Regions from separate parts of the Homo sapiens genome. Here regions 1, 3, 4 and 5 are each linked to region 2. Evidence: fine-mapped expression QTL. A gene starts in region 2. Each other region holds a variant in brackets. All regions are shown on one strand. Distances are from middle to middle. Region 1 overlaps SYNE1 (spectrin repeat containing nuclear envelope protein 1). Region 2 holds the start of SYNE1 (spectrin repeat containing nuclear envelope protein 1). Region 3 overlaps SYNE1 (spectrin repeat containing nuclear envelope protein 1). Region 4 overlaps SYNE1 (spectrin repeat containing nuclear envelope protein 1). Region 5 overlaps SYNE1 (spectrin repeat containing nuclear envelope protein 1).

Region 1 (5,109 bases), 38 kb after region 2:
GGCATCAAAGGAGCACAGGCACTGGATCAAAATGAGTGGAGACCCAGGGGCAAGACCATCCAGGACAAGCAGCATGTGGGTAGGCAAGATGAGAATGGCCAGGTGAACCCCGGGGATGAATTTCAAAGGCAGGTGTCACTTTTTACACACAGCCTACTTCTGAGTATATGGAATCAGTAATGAGTGGACATTCTCCTCACTCCTGTTTAGATGTTCTCATTTCATCTACTGCTGGGATCTCATCTTAGGAACCAGTCCTCTCAATGACACTTAACTTCCATTCAAACTGCAACTCCGGTTAGATTCCCAGAACTATTGCTAAGTCTAGTGATTCTGCAAGCGTTTCAATGATGGTTTGTCGTGTTTTCTGTGGGTGTTTAAGGGCTCCTCCTGCCTATGGCCTGAACTTCATTTTTACCCATACCTGTTCAGCAGGATAGCAGCCTGCCTGGGTTCTTTGTATATTGGAAAAGTTAGGCATCCACATTCTAATCCTGCTGCGAAGTTTCCTCACCTTGTGTAGGCGACACTGGGCTGTCTTGTATTTGCCTTTTTTGCCCTACCAGATATCTCGATGGCATTGCCAATTAAATGTCAACCTCAGCCTATTGTTCCTTCTTCTTTGGTTTGCCTAAAATATATTTATTAACCCATGGATTAGGTGAACCTCAATTTCTTCAATTAAATTAACCCTATGCCTAGCCAGGTCTACTATTGATCATGGCCTTGACAATGATCACATCATATATAAATCTTGTCTCCCAGTAATTATCAAATGCTTTGCTTCCTATTTTTAGGCATTTGACTTGACTCACTGTTGAACTCTACCAATGTTTCTGCTTTTGATTTGAATGGCTGCTCCCTAGCTTGGTGTAAACCATTTAGCATATATCCCATATCCATTTGAATGAGCAAAGCTTCCTCACTTCTCAGAGGGAGAAGTTTCTTTTGCTGTTTTGTTAGATTTGGAAAGTGATCTTCCCAGATTGTCTGATTTTAAGCTTGCAACTTTAAGACATTGTAAATACGTGGGAAGAATCACAGCATGTTTCCCATCTAGAAAAGATGAAACTGTTTGTTCAGACCTTCACTGGACATTTAGTTCTTTACTAAAATATCATTTTTACCGTAGTTTCATTTAAGTAAGAGTTTTTAATTTCACAGTGCATACATTCATATTCTGAATTACTGAAAAATTTTCTGACTGTATCTCTTTTATTCTTTATAAAATAAAGAGCCATCTAGAGGAAAACTTTCCTCCAGTGACCCCAATTCTTTCCCATCTCTTCGTTTCTCTGAACATCAAGGAAAATTTAGACCTGAAGCAAAGCCAAGAAGAAAGGGAAACATGAACATGAAAATTGGAGCTAAATGATTGTCATTAGTTAAGAGAGAAATACAGAAGTAGATTTTCAGCAGATCCATTTGTTTCTTTTTTGCATTATTTGCCAGCAAACAGATACTTCAACCCCAAGGGAAAAAAGTTACCATAGCTTCTACTCATCCGTAATCAGCCTTAAAATTCTGCACTTAAGTTTCTATGTAAGACAAAGGAGAAGATGCCAAAAAGAAAGGTTTCTGTTTGCTTTTTAAAAAAATAGGAACAATTTTAAAATTGTGAGCTTTTTAAAAAAAATTATCACCCTTTACCAGCCATTTGAGTAAAAAGTATTGTTTGGATTATACATTTTATACCCCAGTGTCTAAAAGAAAGCCATGCATAGGTGAGATCTGTTTGGACTCTCAGTTCCTTCTCACCTGGGTCATGGCAACTGTTCCTTAGCCTCTCGCCATCTGTTGTTTTGTTTCGTCACCTCTTCTGAGGTTTGTGCCGTATCAGAGCTATCCTCCTGTTAAACTGTTCGCCTTTGTTACATACTATATGTGAAGTCATAGGGCTTGTCAACTGCTACTGCATTTAATGGAGTCGTCAGTCCTGATGAGTATTACTGGACTTTGCTGGCTCTTGTTGGCACTAAAGGGGAGACATTTTATAGAATTTACTGAATCTCTTCAGGTCTCACATTATTTTTTGGTTCAACCCAAGTCGTACCTTTTACCTTCCAGGTAGTTCTTGTGTCTCCAGTTACCTCATCTTCTACATTTCACCTACCAGATATCATTTCATGTAGTTCATCTTCATCTATTGACTTGTAGCACCTTGTTAGAGTGTTTGTGTCTGACTTTCTATGCTATAGGATACGTATATGATTTCATAATGCCATTGCTTTTGTAGGATAAGTAAACAATAGAAGACATAGCAATGTAAAGAAAATAATACCCTTGAATACACTTGACTCAAATGAATCTGGCCAATGGATTTTAATTCTTACTATAGAAAGGCAGCAGAATTTTAGTTACATAATGAGCAGTTTTATAGTCAGTAGTTTGGGATTCTTACCAAAGGAATTGACCAAGCCTCTTTCAACTTTTCACAATTTATCCATGTTTATCTAAAAATTAGGCAAAAAACCCTGATGTATCTGGCTCTTGTAGACAGAGTGTCCACAGCACTAATTCCAAGCATTTATTGTTCTTTTGTCGTTATTCCTTTGGGAACCAAAGACATTTTTAGTTCTTTGATCTGATAGTGTCACCAATGTAGGACTGCTCAGCATGTCAAGGGCGGGAAGTGGGAGGAATTCTGGAAAGCCCTGTGGGTGTGTGATAACCTAATGCCATCAGATAAGTAGATCCAAATAGTACTGCACAAAGAGCATTCTTCCTCTGTATTCCAAGCACTTACTAGAGCAGCCTGCAGTGATGTTTTCCTTGGCAGGCTTGTGTAGTCATTATTAGCCAGTGGCTTGTCCATTTTAAAATTGGTGATCATTTGAGGACTCAAGGGGCTGGATTTAGTGTTTTTAATACATTCAGAACGATAATTTTTCTCTCCTGTGAATTTGTAGTATTGAAATTATTAAAGAAACAGTAAATTTCCTTGGACTGTGCTGTTTATTATCTCACGAGAAGGGTGAAAATTAAATCCAGATGTTTGTTCTCTATTTGATTACAGTATAAGACTCAGAAGAGGCCTCTGATCTATTAAGAAAGATAATAACATCACTTGAATTTGTTATTATT[A/G]GGCTTCTCTCTGTGACAAAGATGAACAGCAGCAAAACATCTGGATTAACATGGAAGCACAGCTAGATGAAAAATAACACTGTTAATTATATCATAAAATACTCTTCTTGGCTATTGTATTATCTGTCAGATAGATCACATATTGAATGTATATTTATATGTTACCTGCTTCTGTTTCTGCATACAAAGACCAGACTTACCCAGATTCAAGAATTTTGAATTCTTCAGATTCATCAACTGTGATGACTAATTGCCACATTGTCCCTTCTTGCACTCTACAAATGGCAGACTTTCTTTTAACTTTGCAAATGAAGAGGACACCACATTCCCATGATGCTATTTTGAAACTCTTGAAGCTGATTCATTATGGGAAGTATTGCTAAGAGACCATTGAGTTTATGAAAAACTGGCAAATGTGACTTAATTAAATTACTTAAAGAAGAATTGTTTTAATATTTTAATGTGTATATTCAGTTTCTGTATTAGTCAGTTTTCACACTGCTGATAAAGACATACCCTAGACAGGGCAATTTACAAAAGAAAGAGGTTTAACGGGCTCACAGTTCCACGTGGCTGGGGAGGCCTCACAATAATGGTGGAAGGTGGAAGACACGTCTCACATGGCAGCAGGCAAGATAAGAGAGCTTGTGCAGGGAAACTCCCCTTTATAAAACCATCAGATCTCGTGAGACTTGTTCACTATCATGAGAATAGCGCAGGAAAGGCCCGACCCCATGATTCAATTACCTCCCACCGGGTCCCTCCTACAACACATGGGAATCACGGGAGCTATAATTCAAGATTAGATTTGGGTGGGGACACAGCCAAACCATATCAGTTTCTGAATCTGTATATCTGAGCCTGAGCTTTTTTCTCCCTAAGGCCCAGGAAATATTTCCTTTTTCTTACCTCGTTTAAATGTAATAAGGGATGGTGCCTTCGTTACCACTTCATCAATGCAGTGATACTGATACTAAATTAGATGGAGCTCGTGGATCAATTCCTAGTCTTAGAAAAATGAAAATATGTATGTATTTATAAAAATCATCATGATATAAAAAGTAAATAATACTCACTACCATAGTTGCTATAGCGAAAGAAAAAGGGAGATTTTCTAGAGAAGAAAAACATCGCTTGACTATAATATATACTACATATTTAAGCATGTATTTTAGGGATTTTTCCTTATAAATATATTCATAATAGCTACAACAAAAGAAAGAATTCATTACAAGTAGCTGTTTCTTCAGTGGACATGCAGTCTATAATTGTATAATAGTCACATGGTCTCTGGAGTTTGTGCTCACTCATTCTGAACACAGCAGATATCTGGCTGCTGAATTAAATCCAATTCAACAGCCGTTTATCTTGTACTTGCCAAACTATAGGAGGCCAAGGCATGAGGATCACTTGAGGCCAAGAGTTCAAGACCAGCCTGGGGAACATAGTGAGATGCCATTTCCACAAAAAATAAAAATAAAAAAATTAATCAGACATGGTGGTGCACATCTGTAGTCCCAGCTACTCAGGAGGCTGAGGTGGTAGAAGGATCACTTGAACCCACAAGGTCGAGGCTGCAGTGAGCCCTGATCATGTCACTGCCCTCCAGCCTCGGAAACTAGAGTGAGACACTGTATCTAAGAAAAAAGAAAGTTTGAGGCAAACAGGAAAGTGCTTTAGGTAGTTTTAGTTACTGTAAGATGCACGTCTATTTAATGTTTAAAAATAAATTTCTCTCCATATGCTCAATGGGAAAACATGTTGCTCAAAAATCAAATGTCTGTTGGTTTACTAAAATATCTAGAGCCTCCCAGAGCAAGTGTGTGTAAATGAAATCTACCACTTCATATCAATTTAACAAAAATTTTTTATGCTATTAGAGAAATACCTATGATTGGAGAAGAGGGTAAGAGTGATCTTATTGAATTTTATTTTGTCTACCAATTTAGTGCCCACATTTTCCCCAGACATATGGAGGCCCTCATGTTCCTGGCACAGAGGATGAGCAGTTTTTGCTTGTGCCTT
Region 2 (5,109 bases):
ATCTCAGCTCACTGCAACCTTCGCTTTCCAGGTTCAAGCAATTATCCTGCCTCAGCCTCCCGAGTAGCTCAGATTATAGGCGCCTACAACCACGCTGGCTATTTTTTTTTTTTTTTGACAGAGTCTCACTCTGTCGCCAGGCTGGAGTGCAGTGGTGCAATCTTGGCTCACTGCAACCTCCGCCTCCCAGCTTCAAGTGTTTCTCCTGCCTCAGCCTCCTGAGTAGCTGGGCCTACAGGCATGCGCCACCATGCCCAACTAATTTTTTATATTTTTAGTAGAGATGGGGTTTCACCATGTTGGTGAAGCTGGTCTTGATCTCTTGACCTTGTGATCTGCCTGCCTCGGCCTTCCAAAGTGCTGGGATTACATGCATGAGCCACCGTGCCTGGCCAATTTTTGTATTTTTAGTAGAGATGGGGTTTCACCATGTTGGCCAGGCTGGTCTCGAACTCCTGTCCTCAAGTGATCTGTCTGCCTTGGCCTCCCAAAATGCTGGGATTACAGGTGTGAGCCACCATGCCTGGCCAACTCCCGTTCTTGAAAGCTCTCATAGCAACATTTGCCTTTGCTTGGAGAATGGGGTTTTATAAGTATTTGTGTGGTTCTCTGATGAATGTCTGGCTCTTCCCCCATCATACTGTAAGCTCCATGAAGGCAAGAGCCCGGTCAGAGTTTGCTTACCACGGTAGCCCCAGCACTTAGGACAATATTTGTTATGTGGTAAGTGTTCAAGCAATAGCTGTTGAGTAAATGGAGCTACAACACCCTTCCCTGGGGTGTGTGAAACTGACAAGCCCTTTGCAAAACTCTAAAATGTGCTTAGTCCTTCTACAGAGGATAAAGTTTAGCTGAGAATGGGATTTCAGCTGTATAGGGAATCAATGCCAGCAAGACAGCTCTATGCTTCTGTCTGTCTCAGCCTGTGAGAACAGAGATTAGGCCTAGTAGAGGAGTTTTAGTTGGTGGAAGCAATGTTTCAGGCTTGTGTTTTAAGTGGCTCACTTCTCAAGTAAGTAAACCCAAGAAAGTAGTTGCTTAACGTGTAGAATAGCAAGTTGGTGGCCAGGTGCAGTGGCTCACACCTGTAATCCCAGCACTTTGGGAGGCCGAGCTGGATGGGTCACCTGAGGTCGGAAGTTTGAGACCAGCCTGACCAACATGAAGGAACCCTGTCTCTACTAAAAATACAAAATTAGCCAGGTGTGGTGACGCATCCCTGTAATCTCAGCTACTCAGGAGGCTGAGGCAGGATAATTGCTTGAACCTGGGAGGCGGAGGTTGCAGTGAGCCGAGATTGCACCATTGCACCCCAGCCTGGGGAACAAGAGCGAAACTCCATCTCAAACAAACAAACAAACAAAAAGAATGGCAAAGTTGGCACAATAACTTTCTACCCATCTTCAAAAGCCGGCAGGGTGGATTGATTCTATGAAGGTAGGGATTGAGAGGGTGAGCTGAGCCATTCTGATCTGTTTCTTCTGAGTGGCAAGCCTGGAAATCTGGACCCCATTTTGTGGCCACTGGGCACAGAGGGCTGACCTGGAATAATTATGCTCTGGTGGTTGTCTCCACAAGGGGCTCTGGGGGTGCCCCAGGATTGTTGCCCTCAGGCAGAGGCAGGGCATACATTGAGAGTGATCCCAAACACTCCTCCTCCAGGCCCAACTTTTGGAGGTAGCAAGTTCTGCAAATAGAGATCCATTGTTTGGTTTCTCTCTCTAAAAAAAAACAAAAGTCAGCACAAAGAAGAGGAACACATCAGATTGGTTTACCAGATTTGTTTCAGATGTTATTATTTTGACACGATCCAGAAGAAGGAGAATTTGAAGAAAATGGAAAGCTAGGCAGTGGGAATGTTGGCAGCAGGTAAGGGAAAGGCAGGCAGCAAAGAGAAACTTCATCTACTTTATAAACTGCTCCTTCCTTTCAGCAAATTTAGAGGATAAATGACTGTTTTGTTCAGATTGGAGATTCAAGGGGGGGATTATTACTTTTAAGATTATTGCAACATGGCTTCGATTATTTTAGCTGCAATCATCCTGTTGGACTTGGACTTCACTGTTGGTGAAGAGAGACTGTGTTTGACTTTGCCTGGATACCATAAAACCACAACAAAATAAATTCTCCTGAATGCTACCAGGCAACACCAAGATCTCTTACACCACGAGAAGGACTTGTGGCCAAAGATACAAATGGCTCCGCAATGTACAGGGTGCATACAGTGCACCTGAAGAACCTAAAAGTGGTTTTTAGAATCATCATAATAAACAGTCAAGAATTAAAGATGTCAAGCGCTTTCTCAAGAAGTCTAAACTTTATACATAACATTAAAAAAGATCTATAAAGCCTGACCAGTCTCCCTCAAATTAAGTTATTTGCTACTGACTTGGCAGCCAAAACGATTTAGGATCTTTCGGAAGTTGATGAAAAAGGAGCCAGCGGGTTTTGCTCTTTGCTCTGCATCACGCCCTTCCTGGGACCATCAGGGAACCTCCCAGCCTTTCAGGATAGGTTCCGCTCAGAAAGGTCACCCGGGCAGTGGAAACCGTGGGCAAAAGTTAGCTGGCAGGACAGCGCAGCTCCTCCAGGCAGCGGAGGCAGCGCGTCCCGGCTCTCAGGGACATTTCCTTCCCACCTCGACCCCCGGGAGGTGGTCCCGGTATAAAGGCTCGCTGAGCGGGTGGGTCACAGCACAGCTTTGCAGCTGCGGAGAAACGCCCAAGGCCGTGCATCTCCAGGAGGTAGGGAAGCCTGCGAGCCTCCGGGTCCCCGCCCCCAGCTCTTCCAGGCACCGGCGCATCCCGGAGCCGGGCGCGGGGCGCGGGGCACGGAGCCGGGGAGGGGGTGTGGCGGGCCAGGGCGGTGCAGGGACCCTGCCCAGAGGCTGAACCGGCCTGGGCGACCTTCCTTCCCGACAGGAGCAGTAGATGCGTGGGGGAGGGCGAAGGGGGAGGCCTCACCCCCCAGCGAGCAGCCGGGAGGAGGAACCGGTCGCGGAGGGCGGGGAGCGCGGCTGAGCAGCCCGGCGCGGGAGTGAGTGTGGGCGAGCCAGCCAGGGTGAGCGCGGGCGCCGGGCCGCGGCCGCCGGCCGCAGCGGGCTGAGATTGTTGTCCTCTGTCACCAGGGCGGCTGGGCTCCCGCAGTCCTGCAGACCGCGCCCGATCCCGGCGACAGGGCGGGCGGACAGCCGCGCATCCCCGGGGTCCCGCCGAGCCTGGGCGCAGAGAGCCGGGAGGAAGCGTTCGCTCGCTTCGCCTTGCTGCTGGGAAACTGAACGAGGCCGAGAGAGAAGGTAAAAGGAAAGACAGAGACTGGGAGACAGGGAGAGACAGAGACAGGGAGAGGAGAGAGAGGTGCAAGACGAACACATTGCAGACAAATTGTCAGCAAGTTTGTGCCTGCACGCTGGGGCTCTGCGTGCTTGATGGGAGGGGGTGGTGGCAGTGATGTGTGTACGTGTGCGATACTCATAGATAAGGAGACTAGGAGGTTGGGGAGCCTCTTTGCATCTCGTACGTAGATGTCCCTATTAATATCCCCCTCTCTGAGTTGTCATTTCCGCTTGTGGCACATCTCCTGGGCTCCAATGGTGCAGAAGCAAAAGGCAGCCAGCCTCTTATTGTGATGGTCGGTACTGTTGCTACTATCAGATGGGAGAGGTAGGGCGTTGAACAGATTCTAGGAGCCTCCCTTCCTCCACCCCCTGACTATTTTAGGAAGGGCTGGGGGAGGGAAATGGCTTGAAGGCTGCGCGGAGGCCCTGGCGCGTCAGACTCCAGCGGCGCTGTCATGGTGCAGTTGCTTCCCGGCAGAGCCTGCACTAGAGGGCAAGAGAACTTTCGTCTCCTCTTTATAAAGATACGTTTCACATAGAGAGATCTTGCATTGCTGGCGGAGGAGTTCTGGGAAATGGTGGTGCACAGGCGGCCAGGTGCATCCCAACGGGCAGGCATCCGTGCAAAACGAAGCAGCCATCAGCCGCACAGGAAGAAGCCCCTTGGGAAGGCAGGCTGGGTGTGCTGACTGGGATCCCAGACTTTGGATGCTGGAAGTTCTGCCCCCTTCCGTAAATAGAGTCAGGTCCAGCCCAGAGGGAAATATCAGCAATGAAGCCTTAGCATCCCACAATGTTCATTTCTGAGCTTTTCGTTTTGGGGTGGAAAACTTGTATCTGAAATGTTCCTGTGAATGTTAAGAAAGTTAAAAATGAATTATTTTTCTCTTCTTTAATGCCCATCCATTTTTTGTCTTCATCTGAGAATGACTTTCCTAAAGACAACATTCGTATACAGAAGCCAGACCTATGCAAGAGAAAGTATAATAATTTTCAATGAGGCAAAGGTCATTAATATGACCTACATCTTCATAAAATGCGAATTTAATCACGAGTCATGACGATTGTTCTTTGAGAGGCTTTTTATTCCCCATGGTGAAAAAAGATTTGTAGTATGGCTAAAAAGTTCCTGATATCACCGGAACAGTGTGACAAAATACATATCTATTTTTTCTTTTCTGTTCATTACTTTGTGGCAGATTTAGAACAAAATGTGAGAGATCTATACTAACTTAATATGTTTCATGCTGAAGATTAAGAAACAGCTTCAGACTGACCCAGATAACAATATTTGCTAGGCTTTGGAAATATTTGCCTAGCTCTTATTTTATAGTCTCACTTTCATCTTTCTGAACTAATGATTTTCACAAACTGGTTTTCTTCTGTCCTCATTGACCTCATTTAAGAACTCTTTTTTACTTGAGTCCTTCCTGCCAGGGAGAGGAGATTGGAAAAAGCTAGTTTGCCATTTAAAAATGTTCAAGAATTGTTTGGTGCTGCACTGGGCCTACTTTCTGATAACTATGCTGCACACACAGCATCTTGGAAATGAAAGGAGGTGTGACTGTCACAGGATGTAGGAAGCCCATAACTGGGCAAGGTTGGTGGCATTTTCACAACTCCAGCTCTAGCTACTGCAGCCACACCCTGTGGTCTGAATGTGACAGGCATGCAGGGCCCAAACGCCTCTGCGAGGTCCTCTGTGTGTCTCCTCTTAAATGTGTACTTCTTTGTGGTCTAATCTAACGAGAACTAATGTTTGGCAAGGTGTG
Region 3 (5,109 bases), 70 kb after region 2:
ATTATCTTTACTTTTAAATCTTTAAAATATGGTCTTTTCTCTTCTTTATTAAACTTACTTAAAAAAATCTAAATTTAACAATGGGCTAAGCTATATAAGCACTGATACATATGCTTTTCAAACATAAACTTCTGTTATCCTACCAACAACCTTATGAGGCAAGTGCCATCATTACCTCCATTTCACAGATGAGGAAACTGAAAGGAGAATCTAGATAACTTGCCCATAAGGTGATGATTAAACTAAACCCAGGAAATTGGATGCATGCTGGGAACCACTGCACCACAAAATTTTCTACAGCTTATGATCCATACAGTGATCCCAAAATTTGATTGTGCATAAGAATCACCTGGGTATCTTGTTAAAGCCGATTGCTGATCTGCTTCTGTAGGTCAGGATTGGAGCCAGGAATTTACATTTCTAACAAGTTCCCAGGTGGTGCTGATGCTGCTGCTCTGGGCACTTTAAGGACCACTGATGTATGATAATACTGAGACTAGGAGCAATAAAGAACTAATTCATTAATGTTACTTAATCTTCATTATAAGAGTTAAAAATACTGGCTTTCAAAAATGGCAACTTATTACAGCTCAAAATCTCTTTCTTTTTGTTTAAAAGTTACCCCTGGATATTATGCTTATCTCATTGTTTTTTAAATTGAATAATGTAAAACTTTATTTCATATGTTTTAAAGACCATTTTGTGAATTGCTGGTCCATATCTTTGCTTACAAATGTAATGGGACTGAAAATTTTTCTCATTGATTTTATTTAAAATTCTAAGCCAGGTGCAGTGGCAAGAGCCTGTAGTTCTAGCTACTCAGGAGTCTGAGACAGGAGGATCCCTGAGACGAGGAGTTGGAGGCTGCAGTGTGCTGATTGCACCCATGAATAGCCACTGCACTCTATTTTGGGTACATAGAGAGACCCTGTCTCTAAATGTAAATAAATAGGCCAGGTGCAGTGGCTCATGCCTGTAATCCCAGCACTTCGGGAGCACAAAGCAGGTGGATCAACTGAGGTCAGGAGTGCAAGACCACTCTAGCCAAGATGGTGAAACCCCATCTCTACTAAAAATACAAAAATTAGCCGAGTGTGGTGGTACGCATTTGTAGTCCCAGCTACTTGGGAGGCTGAGGCACAAGAATTACTTGGACCCAGGAGGTAGAGGTTGCAGTGAGCCGAGATCTCGCCACTGTACTTCAGCCAGCTTGAGCAAAAGAGCGAGAGATGCTATCTCAAAAAAAAAAAAAAAAAAAAAAAAAGAATAAAATAAAATAAAAATTTAACTCATATTTTTAGCACATATTTTCCCACTATACTCTTTGCCTTTATGTTTATAATATGTTGGATATGTATTTTTGATTTTTATGCAATGAAACCTATTCCTCTTTAGTTATTTTTAGGCCTAAAATGTCTGTCTTCATTATTAAGCATATTTACTATATTTTCAGGTAGTTGTTATAGTTTATTTTAATTCCCTAAACCATTTGGTATTTATTTTGGTGTAAAGAGAGGTTCTCAATGATTTTTTTTTCTATTTTCATTTGCCCTCTAGTTTTCCCTAAACTATTCATCAAATGATCTTTCTCATTTTGTCTAGATAGACACAAGTCTCTTTCTGGACTGTGTATTTCATTGCATTCTATGGTGTGTTCTTTCTCTGTTACCACATTGCTTTAATTAATGCACCTTTTACATTTTATTTTTAATATTTGATAGGACAAGCAATGTGTTCCCTTCCCTTGTTACTTTTCCTTTTCATATCTGAGATTTTCTACATGAGGAAGTCAGACCGCCCTCCTTTTCTCCAGAAAGCACCCAGGAAGCTATTTTTTGACAATAAAGATTACTTTTTTTTCTTGGATTTTGCACAAAAATCTGTAAGTGCAAAGTTACTGCTATAATAACTAGTTAGCATTGGAATAGAAGGAGAGTTTCAGGCTGGAGACATCATGGCAGTTGAAAAAATACTCTGTTCTTCTTTTATTCTTCTCTGTTGCCTTTGCTTCAGCAGATGGTAGAAGGACTCAGTGGTAATAATGGAGACAAAAAAATCAATAGAAGCATCCAAATTATCTGTTATATATACTTCACTATAGGCTAATTACGATCTTTACTATTAAAGAAACATGTAAGCACTGTGTAGGTTAGGAAAACAAAATAACGTACAGTTTTATATTATAATGGGAAAAAAATCTTTTTCATTGGCTGAGTTATTAACAGAATGATTAAAATGGTTATGCTTAGCATTCATCCATCTACAAATGAATGGATGAAGAAATTGTGGCATATATATAATGGAATATTATTCAGCTTTTAAAAAGAAGGAGGTCCTGCGACTTTTGACAACATAGATGAACCTAGAAGACTTGCGCTAAGTGAAAAATACTGCATGACACTTAAACAGTAAATCTAAAAAAAGGCAAATGCATAGAAACAGAGAGTGAAACAGCAGTTAACAGGTGCAGAGGGATGGAGCAGTTTAGGGAGATGGGGGACAAAGGGTATACAGTTGCCACACACGCATACACACACACACACACACACACACACACACACACACACAGTATGTGAAGAGATGAATATGTTAGTTTTCTTGGCCGTAGTAATTATTTCACTATGTGTATCAAAACATCATGTAATACAACTTAAATATATACAATAACAAGTTAATGTTTAAAATCATATGTTGAAAAACAAAAGATGCTTGGCAGTGCCACAAAAAAAGTGTTTGTGGATTGTTATTCTACCCGAGATTAGGCCCTTAAATAATGGAAGTCACTCTTACAACTGCGGTTGTTTGTGAAATTAATATTTGAGTCAGGCCAAGCTCTAGGTGGAGTAATCCTATAAAGACACCTTGCTGAAAATGCATCTGTGGTTTCTCTTCCTGCCTGATGTCCATTTGGCATCCACACTCTGTTGATAATCCCACTAAGCCTTATCCTACAGCACCGTGAATTTAAGATTTTGTGCCAAAAATGCTCTTTTAACCATGCTTTTAATTTAATTTGAAAGGTGGTGGATTGGACTCAAATTGCCTCTGAACCTATATTTTGCTGCTCTTGGATCTTCCTGTGTCCCCTCTGCACCTCCTTCCTCTCACACTTCTTAATAGCTGCTATTTTTTTTTAATGTGG[A/G]TTTTTTTTCTCAAAGCTGGTATTGTTTCTTCCTGAAAAGAAACAACATTGCCCTTGACACTGCAAAACGAAAATACAAAGAAAGGTCATGCTAGTTGCTCGCTTCAGCTTGAGAAGCGAGAACATGTTTTTCTCAAACCTGCCAGCATCTCTGTGTTACCTTGCGTCATCCCTTGTTCCTTCACTCTTATCTCAGTGGGCTGTGATGCTTAACCTTGGTTTTTCACACACACCCCAGGTTCAACACTGGAGGGGTAAGGAGCTAGAAGCTGCTACATTTGCTTGGTTCTTCTTCCCCTGTTTTTCCCTATACACAGCTGTAGTGCTGTGGAAGAAAAAAATAATTTTTCAAGGATGTAAAGGAACTAAGTTTACAAGGACATTAGGTTTAGGTTTTGTATCTTATTTTTCTCCTTGCCCCTGTGCCCTCTGCTCCCATCACCCATGTATGTAGTCAGTGCTTTGCACATAATTTGTGTGCAGTAAATGTTTCTTGAGTCATTTAAGAAGACTGGTCCTCATTTAAGGCTACAAACGATGTTTATTCTAACTTTTAAACCCCACAGTTCCTCCCCCTTAGTTGGCACTGAGTAGCTGGATTTCCAAATGGAAATAAGGCTTAAGTGAGAAATTGAAAAGGACAAGAAATCCTATTTGTAAAACAACTGAAAACCATCTCCCTCTTATTTTTTCAGTTTTTTAGAAATATGCCCTTCCTTAGAGCCTCCTTTTTTTTTTTTTTAAACTTCAGCAGGGAACTTGTCTGAATAAGGGAAGATTTTAAAGCGAAGTAAAGTTTAGCAACCTTTGACCCTTTTCTGGGTCTTGAGTGAATACCAAATGAGAATTTCAAGAATTATAAGGTTGAAGATTTAATGTTGAATATATGGGTATTGGGTCGTCAGACACTTAGCACGTAATAGAGGGTAAATAGCAGTGCCAGTAAATGCCAAAGAGTATTAATAAGTCCATACTTTTCCCTGACTTTAAATTGCTGCATATGCCATACTGGAGGACAAATCTGCTAGCCCTTAGGAATGAATACTAGGTTGTGGGCCCAGCTTTTAAGGATTCAGGATTACTTTATTCCCAGTAATTAACTAACTTAATTGGCCTGAACATGTCAAGATAAATTGAAACCAATGATTTGGATTTGCTCAGTAAATATACCTTTGAATGTCTAAATTCCACAAGAGGCCCTCTTTCTTAGTGTTGAAGCTAGTGGAGGCAAAAGGAACCACATAAATTAATGATCAGGTTTCTCCTGGCTTCTAGAAACTTCTTCGCTTCCCTGTCTTTATTAAATACATATTCTAATAATAAAAGAAAGCAATGGTCTGTTCTATTCCCTTAAGAGAAGTTAATTGCTGCTATCATGTTTAAATCAATAAGAGTAAAAACAAGTATAACAAGTAACTAACATTTATTGATGAATGAATACTATGTGATAAGTGTTGGACACAGCATTTACATAAAATATCTAACTTAATATTTACAGTGATTCTAGGAGGTTTTCATTATTATTTTTGTCTCTAGTTTACATATGGCTAAATGAAGCTATAAAGTGGCTAAGTCACCTTTTGAAATTCTCGCAGTAAATGATGATGCTGGGATCCCGAGTCGGATCTGTTGCACTCCTAGACCCCAAAGTCTGTTGAGGAAATTCATATTTCTTTTGGCCTCTACTGAAGAGTGAGTTTGATTTTTTTTTCCCTAGAAATCATGAGAATAGTTAACATTTTTTATAAGCAAACTTTTGGGGGTTAACAAATTTGATGTTATAATAAACGTTCCTGTCCAGGCACGGTGGCTCACGCCTGTAATCCTAGCATTTTTGGAGGCCAAGGTGGGCAGATCACTTGAGTTCAGGAGCTCAAGACCAGCCTAGGCAACATGGCAAAACCCCGTCTCTACAAAAAATACAAAAATTAGCCAGGTGTGGTGGCATGCCCCTGTAGTCCCAGCTA
Region 4 (5,109 bases), 64 kb after region 2:
AGGTTGCATAGCTAGTAAGTTGTGGCAAATCTAGGCTGTTCTGACTGCAAAGATCATGTTTATTTATGTTGACTCCACAATCTTAAAATGGAACAACAGCCTATTGGATTACTGAACTGTAGTGAAATGCAATATAACTTCTCTTTTTCATGTTTTCAGCAGTTTGCATAAATAAATTGTTGAACAACTATTTTAAGATTCTAAAGCTGTGGTTTTTGAATTCTAGTTCGGATAAGAATGACATGAGGAGTGTGTTCCAATGCAGACCTCTAAGCCTTGTCTCAGAGAGTCTTGGGGCATCTAATGCAGAACCCAGGAAGCTCCATCTCTAGTGAGCATTGCATTCTGATGTCATTCGTCCATGAAACACATTTTGACAGATACAAATCTAGAGGCATGTAATTCAGCCCAGACCACTAAATAAAAGCTTCATTCAGAATTGTTCTGCTCAATGCAGTATGACATTAGGAAAAACTTTATCAGGTGTTGCTCCTTGAAATAGTCCTTTAGGGCATTTATTACATTCCCAGATTGAAGACCACCATCCTATACCACCGGAGTTAGAGAAAACCTCATCAACTGTACCCACCACCATCATGTGTCATTCAGGGATGGGATTATAGCTTAGATGGAAGAGTTCTTACATTTCATGTTTGGTACATTCATTCACATTTATTTTTCTTAAGAAAGCATAATTCCAATGGTTATTCTCTTAAAATAAGTACTTCCATGGTGGCTTAAAGAACCTAAAGCCACAGAAATGAAAAGCAAACAAAATTAAAAACAAACAAACAAAACAAAAAACAAACCAAAAACAGCTAAGAGTGAACTGACGTTTCAAGAGTCCTGCTCTATAAGGATTTGACTGAATGGTGCCTGTCCCAAGGATCTGAAAGTGTTAGTGTGCCTGAAAAAAACAGAAGTTAGATTATACATTGGGGAAAATTACTTTGATTACCTTAGTTACTTCAAATACCTTAATACTTTCATGCAAACATATAAAGTGTATATCCTTCAAGTGGGGTTTTCCATGGTTGAGAAACAACTACGGTATTTACTTAGCACCTATTATGCTCATCTCCTTTCCTTCCCTCAAAGCTTCATTTAGTCCAATTAATGAGATAAGATTTGGATTGATTACCAGACTGCTTAAGCTTAATCAACCAACAAAGACTGAAGAGAGTCATGAAAGAAGTGAGAGCAAGAGGAGGAAGGGCATCCCAGTCCTTGTTGTTCAATTACAGCAATTAACTGTCAGGTGCAGAAAGGAAAGGCAAGAACAAGAGCAAAGAGGAGGTAATTACACAGGGTTGAGCTTGGGGATGCCTTTGCAGAGGTGCAGACACGTTTCTGAGGCAACTCTCCAGATCTCATCTACGAAAACAACAAATATATATTATATATATTTCCTCTCTAAACCTACTCCTTTTGCCACCAAATTAACTTCTAAGGCCTATCTTGTTATATCTGCCATATATATATATATATATGTATATATTTATGTGTATATATATATGTGTGTATATATATACATATATATGTGTATATCCCATTATATATTCCATAACTGTAGATTTGGCCCATTTTCTCCATTCTCACCCCGTTATGAGGCTCAAATCATAGTTACAGCTGGGGACTTCATTTAATTTGTTTTTAAGAATCTGTAACTCATAAAGAGATGACTCAGAGCTTGGTTGAACATCTCTAATGTTTTTGCTTCCCCCAGCTCCCACAGCCCGTAAAGTTAAAATATGTTCTGTGCTTCCAACAGGTGAAGCAGAGCTTTGATGCTATTATGCTGTATCTAACAATGAACCTGTTTTGTTTCTTAGTCATAGAAGTTTGCTGTATATGATGCATACTCTTTTAGGATGGGTAGATGCTATTGTTACTGTTAGTTTGATCATTTTCTTCAAAGTTTTAAAAAATAATTAACCTAATTCTTGAGCATATGAATTAGAGTGTCAAGGTAACAGACTTTTATAGGGAAATCTTCAGAAAATGTAGGCAGAAAAGTTATGATTTATGAGAGTCCCAATATTACATTCTTGACATTTCTTGAAGATAGGTTCTAAATCTTCTTGAACATTTTTTCCTGTTTTCAAAATTAGAGAATGGTAAGTTGGGGTCATCTGAGGAAAGAAGAGTTGTGAGCAATGGAATCCAACCTGCTTTTTCATCACTTCTCTTCAGTTTCAGTTAAAAATGTCAGCCTTGGAAACCATCATTCTCAGCAAACTACCGCAAGGACAAAAAACCAAACACC[G/A]CATGTTCTCACTCATAGGTGGGAATTGAACAATGAGAACACATGGACACAGGAAGGGGACCATAACACACCAGGGCCTGTTGTGGGGTGGGGGGAGGGGGGGGGATAGCATTAGGAGATATACCTAATGCTAAATGACGAGTTAATGGGTGCAGCACACCAACATGGCACATGTATACATATGTAACAAACCTGCACGTTGTGCACATGTACCCTAAAACTTAAAGTATAATAATAATAAAATTTAAAAAAAAATCAGCCTCCTCTATAGAGACCTCAAGTAGGTAATGCCCAGAGGGGAGTCTCCACCTCTAAGTGCCTCGCCCTTAGAAAAGTATTCCTTTCTCTTTCTTTACCTTTAATTTTTCATTGCCTGAGGATATTCAACAAGGTGTTATCTAATTCGAGCAGTTGACAATGAGGTGTGAATGTCAAATAGACATTCCCAGAAGGAATCCTTCCCAGAAGGTGTTTACATTCCTAAAATGTTTATTAGACCAAAGGCAACTCCCTCTTTCAGAATTTGTGGCTGATTTGTTTTTGTATGCTCTGTTGGCTTTTCCTGCCTTCCCTCATAAACTAAATGACCCAGAAAACATCAACACACATCATTCACACACAACACCCATGAACAAATACCATGGAATAACTTTTATTCCACAGCTTTTGGCATTACACCAATTCATTCCCCTTACCTCCGCTCTCTCTCCTTTTTAAGTTACTCTTCATCCCTAGCGAAAGTGAGTTGCCCTTCAGGAAAGACTTTTTCTGGAACGAATCTTTCCAACTGCAGAGGAGCTTTTGAGTATCTGGCAACGATGAGTAGTATTACTGACATTCTGGTTTTGTGACGTTGGGCGGGTCATAGACTCTGGAGCTGTTTCCTAATCCATAAAAAGTGCTCTTATTCTAGAAATCTATTATTCTGGGAGTCCCCTTATTCTGTTTATTGGCTTTGAAGCTCTTCCAATCCAAACAATTTCTCCCATAAGTCATAGGAAATGAGCACTTTTACAAAAAGCAAGACATTGAGGACTGAAGTGAGTCATTCTAACAGCTAATTAGATTGTTGTGCATTTTGGATACATGTAATTAATGGACCCTCCTTTAAGAATAGTGAGAAGAACTGAATTGGCAAAATGGACAAAAATAGAACATACTTTGGTTTGTAAAAGTTTGAATTTACGTAAGATGGTAGTAACATTACCTCAATTGTTACACTTCATTACAGTAAAATGCTAAGTATTATATTATGCAATGACAATAGAAATATCACTCAGACACCTCAGAAGTGTCATTAAAGATGTAGGCATTATGCAAAAATATATTTGATTTCTACTTGCCTTTTCAAATGCTTCAGGCAAAAGGTCAGTCCAAGATTGCGGTGATAAAGCTGCCCCCACCCCAACCCCTTCTTTAATTCAGGAAGTGACTAGAGTTTTGTTATTGTAATTACAAATATGATAATTTCCTGGCAAGGAAATTTTTAAAAACTGTGATGATGCACAAACTAGCATTGAAAAATTTAAAAAATGCATTGAAAATAACAAGTTAGTTGCATATAGCAAGTAAGTAGAAAATGATTAAAAACTAAATTTAGTTACATGTTACTCTTTCCTTTTTAAATTATTTAAGAAAATACACTAAAATGTTAATCTTTTCTCTGCCAGGGAAAATGCCTCTTTCGTCACAGTAATTGACCCAATACAGATACAGCCATAATAAAACAATTTTGTTTCCTGAGACCCATTTTCTTTCTCTTTGTGGGTACTTTACAGTCACGGATTTTGGGTTAAATCACACCATTTTATTAGTGACAAGAAGTTAATTTGCATGCTTTCTTCCTTCCTTTTTTTTAGGGTAAAAAGTATACACATATAGAAATTAAATATAAATCCTCCCCCTTCATCATGCAGCTGTCATGAAATGCCTCTGAAGGATTGTAGGTGTGTAGCTCTAAATTTCGTGGTGCTACAGGATTCATATACATGTATTCTCCATTCCTTCAGAAATTGCTGGCATTTTTTGTTTGTTTGTTTCTGCACATTGAATTTTTCTTTCTTCCCTTGATTTTCCTTTTCTGAAGACCTAGAGTCAACACAAGTGCCAGTTCTCAGCTAGAGATCATTGCCAAGGCTGTTATTTTAAAAGCAAGCCTAGTAATCAGTACTTTGCTTCCTGTTCTTAAGCAATCTCAGAAGACAAACCAAGTAGGGGTCATTTCTATTCCATTGGGTTAAAAGAAACCTCAGAATGGAACACATTGTAAGGTAATGTTTACAGGTTAAATTTATTGAAACTAAGTAACTGAGATAGAAAGTTGTCAATTGAAAAATATCTCTGTATTACTGTGTAGGTCAAAAAAGACCAGAGTAAACATCAAATTAAATAAGCAGCTTGATTTCTGAGCAAAGTCCCTTCCCTTCTTGCTTTCTGAGCAATGGGATGAATCCCCCTTTGTGCATCCCTTTCTGAGACTGGGCAGGGCAGTCTCGTGAATTCCTCCGCATCTGGCTGCCTTTAGGAGAGAGCTCCTAGATAGATGCTTACCTTACTTATTGCTGTGAGTAGGAGTTTTTTTGTTTGCTTGTTTGTCTTTCTCTTTAGTGAGGTACACTACAAAAGAAAGACTTCTTACCATGATAGTAAGGACTGAACCTTCCTAGATAGCTCCCTTTATTAATTTGTAGAAGGAAGGGGATACCATTGTTTTGATTGCCTCTGATTAAGGGAACAGCTGTTAGTAATCTGCAAGACCCGCTTCCTGGTGGGAATAGGTGCAGCACACCACCCATCCCGAAGTTTGTTGGGATGAAGGACTAAAATAACCCAGTGCTGAGACT
Region 5 (5,109 bases), 53 kb after region 2:
TGGAATAATGGTGTAGGAGTTCTGGTAAAAGATGATAAGGAAGGATGTTTTTATTTTTCCCTGAGACTTATCAAAAGCAACAAAAAGGAATGCAAAAATTGTGGAAAAAATTCAACATTGGTAAACTTGAAAATAATCATACTCCTACCCAAATCTTTAGGATAGGAGTATCTCTATCTGTCAAATAATAGTGATAATTGGATCAGATCAAGTGAAAGACATCAAAGACTGATACATACCACTCTGAAGCTCAGTTAGGATATGGACTTCTCTAAAGATAAGCGAAATGGTCCCAAAATAACCCTTTACAAAGATATGACTTGGCCCATGGGAAGCCATTGTAGATGTGGAGAATGTTCTAATACAGACCGATTTTCTTTCTGAAGAACATCAGAGAATCAGGGCTGAAGAAGACAACATAGAGCTGCAATTATTTTCTGTGACCTAGAATAGACTTAGCAGTTTGTTAATACAGTAATGTGTTACCAAATGGGGGAGTCTTCTAGGAATGTAGGGATAATTCAATATTATGAATTATATTAATATAATTTATCTTAGTAATAACCCAAAGAAGAAACTCTGTACCCATCCAAATGCAAAATAAGTTCTATGAAATTTGCACTTAATTCTGATTTGTATAAAATCTTCATAGTGGTGTGTGTGTGTGTGTGTGTGTGTGTGTATGAGAGTATGTTTGTATATAGCCAGCATCAGTGCTAAGTTTTAAGAACATTCCCACCAAAGTCAGTAGTCACATACCAGCCAATATAATTGGGTACAAATAAATAACAAAAATAATTAGAAGTGGTATGGCAAACCTATCATTAGTTACATATATTATCAATGTATGACTGGAAGACATAAAGGAATTAACTGAAAAGCTGTTAAAAAACAGCAAGAGAATTTAAGAAGGTGGAAGATATCAAATGCGGAGAAATTATATGAGGAAAAATCTGACACAGTCTTTTGAGGAATATATAGAAGAGGACTTGGACTAAATTGAAAGACATAACTTGTTCCTGGACAAGAAAACTCACAATAAAGATGTCAGATAACAAATTAAGCTAAAATTGCACTCTTGAGCAAGACTTTTAAAAAATTTGAATTGTTAGAAATAATTATATTAATTCAGAAAAATAAACATTATATGGTATATAGAAAAAAGTCTACAAAAGAAGAGTTATGAGGGAAACCTAATTCTATTAGATATTGGAATATACTTGCCAACCATAGTAATTTAGACATATATATACTCAGGGTGGAATATGTAGTTCAAAATAGGCCCACATATGTAAGAGATGAGAATATTCATGTCATCATTTGGAGACTCTTGGATAGGGAAGCAGAGGAAAGGAGCTGACTTATTACCTCATGTCTTTGTATTTCACACAGCACACACAGACACCCCAAACACATGCACACATACACACAAACACAAACACATGCGATTTCAAGCAGACCAAAGGTTTAAATACATTTGTCTGCAACTGACATTTTGTAGGCTAAAATCACTTATTTTTACGATTCCATATGGCTTAACCTAAATTTTAAAAGATGAAACCATAGAACTATTTTAAAAATCATGGCGGTGTTTTTCTTTTTCTTTTATAATCTAGTAATGGGGAAATCCTTTCTTAGCTTGTCAGAAACCCAGAACCAAAAAGAAACTGATTTGTACATTTCAGTGCCTAAAAATATCTGCACAACAAAATGTATAAATAAAAAGCAAATGAGAAAGTTGGAGAAAAATGTGTCACAAATATGACAGAAGTTATATAATTTTGTAATAGACAAAGGTCTTTATAAATCATTACAAAAAGGAAAACCAGTCAGTAGAAAATAGGCAAAAGACGAAAACATCTGCACTTAGGCAATATTCCTCCAATTAGAGACGTGCATAAACATTGAGTCAGTAATTTTGTTTCTATGATTTTATCCCACGGATCTATTTGCATTTGCATGCAAAACTAGACCACAAAGTTGTTAATTGCAACATTTTTGATAATGCTAGTATATTAGTCTGTTCTCATGCTGCTAATAAAGACATACCTGAGACTGGGTAATT[T/C]ATAAAGGAAAGAAGTTTAATTGACTCACAGTTCAGCATGGTTGGGGAGGCCTCAGGAAACTTAACAGTCATGGCAGAAAGAGAAGCAAACACGTTCTTCTTCACATGGCGGCAGCAAGGAAAGAACTGCCGAGCAATAGGGGAAAAGCCCCTCATAAAACCCTCAACTCTCATGAGAACTCACTCACTATTAGCAGAATAGCATGAGGATAACCACCCCTATGATTAAATTACCTCCCACCGGGTCCCTCTCATGACACGTAGGGATTACGGGAACTACAATTCAAGATAAGATTTGGATGGAGACATAGCCAAGCCATATCAGCTAAAAACATCTTATGTTTCCCTATAAGGAACTCTTTATGAATAGAAAAATGCATTCATACCATGCAACATTATGCAGCTATTAAAATATGATGAAGATTTAAATGTAATGTAACGTGAAGATGCAGAAGCATGTATACATTTTTATTCCAGAAATATTTTCTGCATATTTTCTTCACAAGAGTGTAGGGTTACATATAAATATTACGTTAACTTGCTATATTAAATAAGATATGAAAAGTATAAGGCCGGGTGCAGTGGCTCATGCCTGTAACCCCAGCATTTTGAGAGGGTGAGGAGGGAGGATCACTTGAGCCCAGAAGTGTAGAGCAGCCTGGGCAATGTAGCGAGACCTCGTCTCTACTAAAAATCAAAAAAATTAGTTGGGCATGGTGGTACACACCTGTGGTCCCAGCTACTGTGGTCCCAGTGAGGTCTGACAGCGCCATTGCAGTCCAGCCTGGGTGACAGAGCAAGGCCCTGTCTCAAAAAACAAAATAAATAAATAAAATAAGTAGGGATACAGAGAAGCAGATGTTATTTTGCACCAAGGGGAATACATTAAATATGTATTTTGGGTTATCTCTACTTAGATTATAAATTATAAATCACACTAAATTAAGTATAAAAAGTTAAAGTATAGTATGATCCGATTTTGTGATCTCTTTCTTTCTCTCTGTCTCTCTCTCTCTCTCTCCATATTTATTGAAACTTTGTGGCCAGGCACTACTGCAAGTGTATATGACATGTGTCATCTTATTTAAATCTCACCAGAACCCTAAGGAAAACTTTAATTATTGTGCTCCCCGATTTAGCAGATAAGGGTATCGAGGCACAAGTGTCATAATCTGCCAAAGATCACAGAGCTAGGGAGTGCCAGTGCCAGGATTTGAAAGCAGGCAGTCTGGTACCAGAGCTTCTGTTCATAACCCCCAGGCAATAATGCCTTCCTATACATTGCCTCTAAATCCATCGCAAAGATGCACACAGAAGAGATGTTTTTCTCCTTCCTTGTGTGGCTATATCTAGTTTTTAGGTAATGTTGAGTAGGATAAACATATTTGTTAGGACTCCTCACCTCCAGTCCATCCCTGCTTTTTTACTCTCTGCCGCAGGCCCACCCGAGTCTAATTCTCCCACTTTTGCTCTCAGGAAAAGAGCTGATAAATTCAGTCAAATGACCAGTGAGGCATAGTGCTCTCTTCCAATGTCCCTTTTACAGCAGAAATGAACCATTGATTCCAGACTGACAGGCTCATCTGAGTCACTGCCAGCTTTCAGGGGATTGGAGGCTGATAGGGGGATTTGAGGTAGGAGAAATTCTGGAACCTGTAAAAACAGACACAGCCTATTTTACCAGTCTCTGGAAGTAAGGCGTCTTCTGTTTCTCTAAGTTTTCTGATAAAGGTCCCACACATTGGAATTGTTGTAATAAAACAGGCAACATTTATAGATTTCCTATTTTTCTGCACAATCCTCACAGTAACCTTAGAAAGCTGGTGACACTATTTTTATCCTCATAATAAGGGAATGGGGCTCAGTACAGTGAGGTAATGATGCCCAACTAGTAATGATAGAGATGTCACTGCAAAGCCTGTCCTCCCAGGGAGGCAGATATGGGTTGAGGGTGTGAGAAAGGGAAAGTTGTGATGATCCTAAAGGCCCCTCCACCCTGAGTGACCTTCATTTTAGGATGTGACGCATGAAGCCGGGGCACACTAGAAGTCCCAACACACAGTGGTTCCTTAATGAGGGTCACTGATTTAGGATCTGAGCAAAGGTAACTCAAAATATATATTTAATGTATTCCCTTTGGTGCAAAGTAACTTTTATATTACTCAGTAGCAGCTTATTTATTGGTCTTTGTCAATAAAATAATTATAAAATGTATAAGATTTATAACACTTCAGAATCTCTCCACTCCAACAAAGTGACCACTTGATTTTAATAGCACTTCATGATTTTGTCTGTATTCATAGCAAAACAATTACTAAATAGAATACTCTGATGAAAAATTTTAAATATGATTGCAACCTTCTACAAAGTATTTAGAAATTATGAAATAAATTTATATTGTAGAATTACAGATTTCAGCAAATTTTGAAAAGGCCACAATATATGTAAGTGGCCAGTATACTCTTTAACAAAGATGAAGTAATTTTAAAAAAAGATGGAAGTAATAGACACTGAAAACTCCAAAAAAGGGAAGGATGGAAGGAGGCTGATGATTGAAAAATAACTTATCAGATAGTTTTCACTGTTTGGGTAATGGGTACACTAGAAGCCCAGTCTCCACCAGTACCTTATATTCTCTTGTGACAAACATGCACATGTACCCCATGGATCTAAAATAAAATAAAGTTATATATATATTTATTTATATATATGTAAAAAGTTTTGAGCACTGGTAACCCATTTTAAGCTGGCAACATGTATATGTAATATGTAATATATGTGTGTGTGTATATATATAAATTTGACTTAAAATTTAACTCAGTGTGTGTACACACTCATGCACACACATGTATATATACACATATTTGAATACTTTTAGGGGGTGAGTGGGACTAGGTAAGTAATGATATTGTTATTACAAGGAGAGATGTGAGAGATACTATGAGAATGTTTAAGACAAGGTGCTACAGAGAAGGGAAAGAGAACTTCCAGATATGATGATATTATGGGAGATCTTACCTTTGAACTAGGTACTAAGGAGAATT

What was found. PIP is the estimated chance that this variant, and not a neighbour inherited with it, causes the effect.
Region 1: its variant is the best candidate, but not a certain one, in a credible set for the expression of SYNE1 in adrenal gland (GTEx, PIP 0.52).
Region 3: its variant is the best candidate, but not a certain one, in a credible set for the expression of SYNE1 in blood mononuclear cells (TOPMed, PIP 0.85).
Region 4: its variant is the best candidate, but not a certain one, in a credible set for the expression of SYNE1 in stomach (GTEx, PIP 0.83).
Region 5: its variant is the best candidate, but not a certain one, in a credible set for the expression of SYNE1 in whole blood (INTERVAL, PIP 0.83).

Annotation. Positions count from the first base shown.
Region 1 is chr6:152,596,908-152,602,016 of GRCh38, reverse strand. All of the region lies in intron 3 of SYNE1 (spectrin repeat containing nuclear envelope protein 1), which reads left to right. Among named protein-coding and RNA genes, the nearest start is that of SYNE1, 38 kb to the left of the region's middle. The variant A/G (reference allele first, on the strand shown) is at 3,085.
Region 2 is chr6:152,634,824-152,639,932 of GRCh38, reverse strand. SYNE1 (spectrin repeat containing nuclear envelope protein 1) reads left to right here and starts at 2,571. Exons shown (of 146, transcript NM_182961.4): 1 at 2,571-2,744; 2 at 3,128-3,295. RefSeq lists an enhancer at 4,944-5,073.
Region 3 is chr6:152,564,445-152,569,553 of GRCh38, reverse strand. All of the region lies in intron 3 of SYNE1 (spectrin repeat containing nuclear envelope protein 1), which reads left to right. Among named protein-coding and RNA genes, the nearest start is that of SYNE1, 70 kb to the left of the region's middle. The variant A/G (reference allele first, on the strand shown) is at 3,143.
Region 4 is chr6:152,570,585-152,575,693 of GRCh38, reverse strand. The region is part of intron 3 of SYNE1 (spectrin repeat containing nuclear envelope protein 1); the gene reads left to right. Among named protein-coding and RNA genes, the nearest start is that of SYNE1, 64 kb to the left of the region's middle. RefSeq lists an enhancer at 2,427-2,989. The variant G/A (reference allele first, on the strand shown) is at 2,267.
Region 5 is chr6:152,582,229-152,587,337 of GRCh38, reverse strand. The region is part of intron 3 of SYNE1 (spectrin repeat containing nuclear envelope protein 1); the gene reads left to right. Among named protein-coding and RNA genes, the nearest start is that of SYNE1, 53 kb to the left of the region's middle. The variant T/C (reference allele first, on the strand shown) is at 2,066.